2 linked regions of the Homo sapiens genome follow. The protein of the gene in region 1 purifies or fractionates together with the protein of each later gene. This does not show direct contact. Each region holds a gene or a part of one and is shown on either strand. Other genes may lie near its edges. The genes, in order: CRB1 and MPP4.

Evidence for each region.
Region 2: the proteins of CRB1 (region 1) and MPP4 purify together in Homo sapiens (co-immunoprecipitation; one study listed by IntAct). This does not show direct contact.

What each region holds. Positions count from the first base shown.
Region 1 is NC_000001.11:197,474,218-197,476,898, forward strand, and holds part of CRB1 (protein crumbs homolog 1 isoform 1 precursor), read left to right. Parts: intron 1-2,681. UniProt on the Homo sapiens protein: Plays a role in photoreceptor morphogenesis in the retina. May maintain cell polarization and adhesion.
Region 2 is NC_000002.12:201,674,645-201,678,473, reverse strand, and holds part of MPP4 (MAGUK p55 subfamily member 4), read left to right. Parts: intron 1-3,202; coding exon 3,203-3,267; intron 3,268-3,829.

The sequences.
Region 1 (2,681 bases):
ATCCTTTGAAGTAGATGTTAATATTCCATTTTATAAATGATGAAAATGAGTTCCTAAGAGGTGAAATAACTTGCTGTGTTTGCACAAGTAATTGGCAGAGCCACGAATCAAACCCAGGTCTCTGCCTCTGAAGACTGACCTCTTAACCACTTCATTACACAGCCAGGACTGGCAGAGGTGGGGCTGGATCCCAGGCCTTGAATTTGCTCTTTTATTTTTATCACATTTTTAAGAACAGCAAAGCAACTGTAGATGAAGGACTTGGTTCCTCAGGAGTCCCAAAATATGTGAAACAGGTCAGCCCTCTGGTTCAACCTGAATTGAGGTACTAACAAGGACTCGGGACCCACCCCCATGAGTCCTTCTTCCTCTCCTGTTGCAGCATAGCAGATGAGAGGATCTGGGAAGCCTCAGTTTACCCAATGTAATCAATCTCAGGCTGAATGAGAAGAGAAGGGCCTGGAAAAGTTTAGAAAACAGAGACAAACCAAGTGATTTTTCTCTTGTGTGCATGGGTGTGGGCACTCCCAACTCTCTCATCCAGGAGAACCGCCATTTACTCCAACAGATGACATGATTTACCAGACAGATTAAGATGAAATCAACATCTAAGAACAAGAGTGTGCATTTTCTAAAGATCATTGGATAGTACTAAGGTGTTTTTCTGGTCAGATTTCATCTGCTCTTCTGTGTCCCAGCCTTTTGACCTTTCAAGCCCAACTCTGCGGTTCTGTTCCTCTTTCCCAGGCCAGAGTTATCTTTATTGATAAAACATATAATTATTTACAAAAGCATGGCCACACAGTATGGATGGAGAGTTTGCCCTCTAGTTGACATAAACTATTTTTTCTAAAAAACTACTGAACTCTATGAAATTCTATATGCTTTACTTCAAAAGCTCCAGTCATTGTCATAACCCAGAATTTTTCACAGTAATATGAAGGAGAGATGGAGTAGTAAACATATTTCTAATGATCTAATAGTACTATATTCTTGAATGTCTCCAAGGCACCTAAGACCAGCTTTTCCCAGCCTGACCTCATATTCTTCCTACACAAACCTCATGTGAACCCAGTTTTTCCTCATGTGAGCCCAATTTCAATGACTGACATCCCAATCCACCTGCTCATCTAATGTGGTATCAACAGCCATCTTCATCCTTCCTCTCTTCCCCACTACCCCACACAATCTGACATGGGGTGATGCTGAATTTACCTCAGAAATCCCTGTCAAACATTCTTTCCCTTCAATTCTCACTCCTTTGCTAAATTTAGACCTAGGTAATCTCTTATCATGACTAATAAGATAAACTAACTTCTCTGCCTCCAATTTCTTCCCCACCTACACTATCTCCCATCCTCCACCCTGTTACCAGAGCTTATCAAGTCATGCTTTTGCTTAAATATCTTCAGTGGCTCCTCACTGACTACAGGACAAAGTCTGAGTTTAGTGTGGCATTCACATTTCTTAACAAGACCCTTCTACTTTATAGTATTTTCTCTCACCAACTCTTTTCACCCTTTCCCAATTCAAACATACACATTCATGGTCAATGTATTGGTCAATATAGTATTTTCTCTCACCAACTCTTTTCACCCTTTCCCAATTCAAACATACACATTCGGTCACACTGGGTTTCTTACTCTTTCCCTAAATTCTAAGGACTTTTATGTCTTCTTGCGTTTTATGTTTTGTTTTTGTTTTTGTTTTGAGACAGAGTTTTGCTCTATCACCCAGGGTGGAGTGCAGTAGCCTGATCTCAGCTTACATCAACCTCCGCATCTCGGGTTCAAGCGATTCTTCTGCCTCAGCCTCCCAAGTCGTTGGGATTACAGGCACCCACCACCATGCCCTGCTAATTTTTGTATATTTAGTAGAGATAGGGTTTCACCATGTTGGCCAGGCTGGTCTCGAACTCCTGACCTCAGGTGATCTGCCCACCTCAGCTTCCGAAAGTGCTGGGATTACAGATATGAGCCACCGAGATTGTCTCATTAAAGTGGAATTTCCTCCTTGAAGTACTTGAGCATCCACTAATCCTTCAAAGGACAATCATGTCTCATTCCAATCTTGCTCCACCTACTCCTCAACACAATTAATTCATCACATGGTCATAACACCTATCTGTAATGTATTATGATTATTTGTGTGTGTGTGTGTGTGTGTGTGTGTGTGTGTGTGCGCGTCTTCCTCTTCTCCTATCTCCAGAATTTGAGCTCCAGATTCCAAACTTTTATTTGTCTTTGTATTTTCATTTCCTAGCTCAGTAAATGCTCATAGTAAATGGTCAATAAGTATTGCTGATTGAATGCACAAACTAATGAACCACATTTGAGCAAGGATTATTGTGAGTAGATCCCAGACAATACTATGAAGCTGTTAAAATATTATATTAATTGTATAATAATTTAAACCAAGACACAGGGGACAATAAAAAGAGACTAAGGATAGAAAAGATATTTAAACTCTCTAGGATGTTAAACACAGATTTCATTTGTAATAGATTGGTTTGGTAACGTGGGGATGAGTCCTAGAGAAAGCTAAATAAGAAGGTAAAAGAGTTTACTACTGATTTACTCTGATAGAAATATGTCTTTGAAAAAATCAGTTTAAAAATTCAAACAGTAACTCCTTTCTGTCTTTAATATTTCTGTGCAACTCAGTCACAGTTTCATGTTAGC
Region 2 (3,829 bases), on another chromosome or scaffold:
GACCACAGGGAGAGTTGGGCTGCAGTTAAAGCAAGAAGAAAGGGCTCAAAGAAGAGGCTGAGGTCTAAGAGAGTTTGCTGAAGATTTGCTGTGGGTTCCAGAGGGCGTGGGTGGGTGGAAGGGGTCTTATAGGGATTAAAGCACAGGGGATAAGGGGTGACCTGAGCTTGGGGGCTGAAGGACATGAACAGGGATAAAGGCCTAATGAGATTAGTCCTCATGGTTTCAGGTCAGAAAGTGGTGAGGAGGGTCTGGCAGGGGCCTTGCAAGGAGCACACAAAACCCAATTATGGGTTTCTTGGGGGGGCACACAAACAAAGAATGATAGGAAGTTCTCATGCTGCTTTTAGTCATTGCCACGTGAAAACCTAATATGAAAATAAGAAATTAAGCAATTTCATTTAGAAGCAATATGTCAATAGCAGAGTCTACACAAATGTCTTGTTGGGGACAGAATAATGGAAGGCACCTCGGACTCTCCTGAATCTCATTCAGAAAACCAGGAGGCACATTGGAGGACTGGAGGAGGGTGTTGAGACTAAATCCGCTGCCATATCTGGGCAAGAGGCCTGCCCCGAGCGCGGGCTGATGTGGCTTTTGAGAAGTCAGTATCTCTGAGCCTCAATAAATGAGGTCTTTGATATCTACAAACAATTTTTCTCTCTTCCTACCTCTCCAACTTTGCTATGAGTAAAAATGAGCTGGGTATTTTGTAAAATACGGATTCCCCGGCTCTGCCCTCCCCTCTCTGAGGATCTGATTCAATAGATATGGACTGAGCCAGGAATCTGCATCTTCACCAAGCGCCTCAGGTGCTCAGGGTAAGTGGTATGAAGAGCAGCATTGTGCTTAGGAATAGTGAATGAGCGCATAAAATATTTTTTAAACTCTTTATAAGAGTGACAGATTTGAATGCAAGTAGCTGGGGGGGTTTTGTTTTGGTTTTGCTTGTTTGTTTTTACTTTCAACAGGTAGAAAATTATATCTGATTTTAGAAAACTGTGAAAGAGTGAGGAGGAAGGCTTCTCCAAAAAGGGCATATTGGTGGAAAATAATACCCATCTAAAGGAGTTTGGAATGACTCTATTGCAAATTGGGGGAGTTAGATGTTGATGGTTTGTGCCAGAGTAGCAAATATTTTTGGCAAGTAGACGTGACTTTCCAGTGAGAGGCCCCATTCGCTGGAGTTTCCCCCAGAGGGAACATGTGAAGATGTACAGGATAGCATTTTGTAAGAATGAAAAACCAGGAGCTCCCAGAGGAGAAAGGCCAGGGTGAAGCCTAGAGAGGAAGCTGATAGAGAATGAGAGACACAGAGACAGAGATAGAGAGAGATCAGACTACCAGGTAATTAACCATGGAGTAACCAAGGAAAGGTACAGAAGGTTAAAAAACAGGAAACACAGATATTTACAGAGCTCATCACCTAACTAGGAATCAAGAATCTTGGCTCTGGCCTGCATGTGCTGTGAATTAAAGTACCTTAATTATGCAGAGAATATTTCTGGAAGAATGCACAAGAAACTGAGCAGAAGGAAGGGAAGAAGCCTTACTTTTTAAATGTTTTTATTTTTTGAGATGGAGTCTTGCTCTGTCACCAGGCTGGAGTGCAGTGGCATGATCTCAGCTCACTGCAGCCCTGGCCTCTTGGGTTCAAGCCATTTCCCTGCCTCAGCCTCCAGAGTAGCTGGGACTCCAGGTGCGCACCACCACGTCCAACTAATTTTTGTATTTTTAGTAGAGATGGGGTTTCACTGTGTTGGCCAAGCTGGTCTCGAACTCCTGACCTCAGGTGATCTGCCTGCCTCGGCCTCCCAAAGTGCTGGGATTACAGGCGTGAGCCACCACACCCAGCCTACTTTTTTATACTGTTAAGATTTTTACTCTGTGTATATGTTATCTCTTCAAATAATTAATGAATCTGAATGCCCTGCATGTCCATGCTAATTGAGTTTACAGTAAGGTCTCATGTATTATTTAGTCCTCACGATGCCAAATGCGCTGAGCCCCATTTCAAAAGTGGGGAACTAAGTTTCAGACATTAGGAGATTTGTCCAAGATCCTAAGGAGGGGAAGCATGCCTGGAACCCAGGTCTGTTGAATCCCAGTCCATCACTTTGTAGATTATAGCATAGATGCCTCCTGCTGCTAACTGTTCAACCTCCACCACATTGCTTGACTTCCCTGGATCAGTTTCCTCATTTCTAAAGTGAGGAAGGTGGACTAAATTGGCCCTTCTTCAACTCTCTTGTGAATTAGAATCACATGGAGAGTTTGATTTAAACATGTAGATGCCCTGGCCTTATCTCCAGGGAATTGGAGGCAGGAGCTCTGGGAGGCCCAGATTATTTGCATTTTAACAAACACCTCAGATGTATTCCAAAGTTTGAGAGATTAAATTAGAGCTTGTTGCCTTTAACATACATATGACTTACCTGGGCTCTTATTAAAATGGAGATTCTAATTTGGAAGGCTTGGGGTGGAGACTGAGATTCTGCAGTCCTCACAAGCTCCCAGGTAAAGGTGATGCTGCAGTTCTGGGAATACAAAGAACAGAGTGTCTTCGAAATCTTCTCTTGCTCCAAACTTCACAGTGTTGAATAAAGAAGGAAGAGCAACTTTGCTTAGAAAGTTGCTTTGAAGTAGGCAAGGCAAGGAAAACCTGCCCAAAGAAATTGCTGGGGGACTCAAGGGAAGAGGAACAAGTCAACAGAGGTTTCAGGTGCCAAGAAAAGGTGAAGCCTTGCCCTGGAGCCCAGGGGTGATGCTAGAGATCAAGAAAGGAGCAGAGTCATCTATAGAAACTGTAGAGAGCCTCTAATAGCCTGAGAGGGAAACCTGAACATGTCATGAGAATTCGAAGGAGACTGCAAAGACAGGCTAACATGCCTGAGAGGCAGCTTACCACGGGTCATTTACTGAAACTCCATGTGCAAACTTGTGATCATGTGCGAGATTGTCACTGTAAGTCTTTGTTGTTCTGAAAAGATCCCGTGAGGCAGAAGAAGACATGAGAGAGCCTATATGTTTGGAAAATTTATTTGACAATGTATTTGGAGAAGCAATCACCCTTTTCACTTGAGTGAAGGCAGCAGAATTCTAAGAAACATTCTGTTTGTCGTTGCTCTGGGTCTGTTTCATCTAGGTTAACAAAGAGTGGTTTTTGTTTGTTTTTTGTCGCATGGTTTTTTCCCCCCCATAGGAAGCAACGGGAATTCTGGTGGTCTCAGCCGTACCAGCCTCACACCTGCCTCAAGTCAACCCTATGTGAGTATTGCAACTGCCCGACAGGTTCTTCCTGTTTGCAATAAAGACCATGGCATTGCAGTAAATAAAGAGTCTAATTGATGTGAGGCTGGCCATGCCACATGGGAGATGGAGTTGTTATTTAAATCAATCTCCTTGAAGGGCCCTAGATTAGGGGTTTTTCAAAGGTAGTTTGGGGAGGGCGTGGGGGTGGTGGCTATTCAGTGGGCACTTGCTACTGATTGGTTGGATCAGAGACGAAATCATAGGGAGTTGAAGCTGTCCTCTTGTACTGAGTTGCTTCTGGGTGGAGCCACAGGAGCCATTGGTTGGTGGGTCCAGATGGAGCCACAGGTGTCAGACATGCAAAAAACCTAAAAAGATGTCACAAAAGGCCAATCTTAGGTTCTACAATAGTAATGTTATTTGCAGGAATTATTGGGGAAATTGCATATCTTATGACAGTCTACACCTTAGCAGAATTCAGGCTCCTCTCCTTCCACTAACTTGATGGTCTCTCATTAGCTTTATAAAGGCGGCTGAGTTTTAGGGGAAGGACTGTTATCATTTAAACTATAAATAA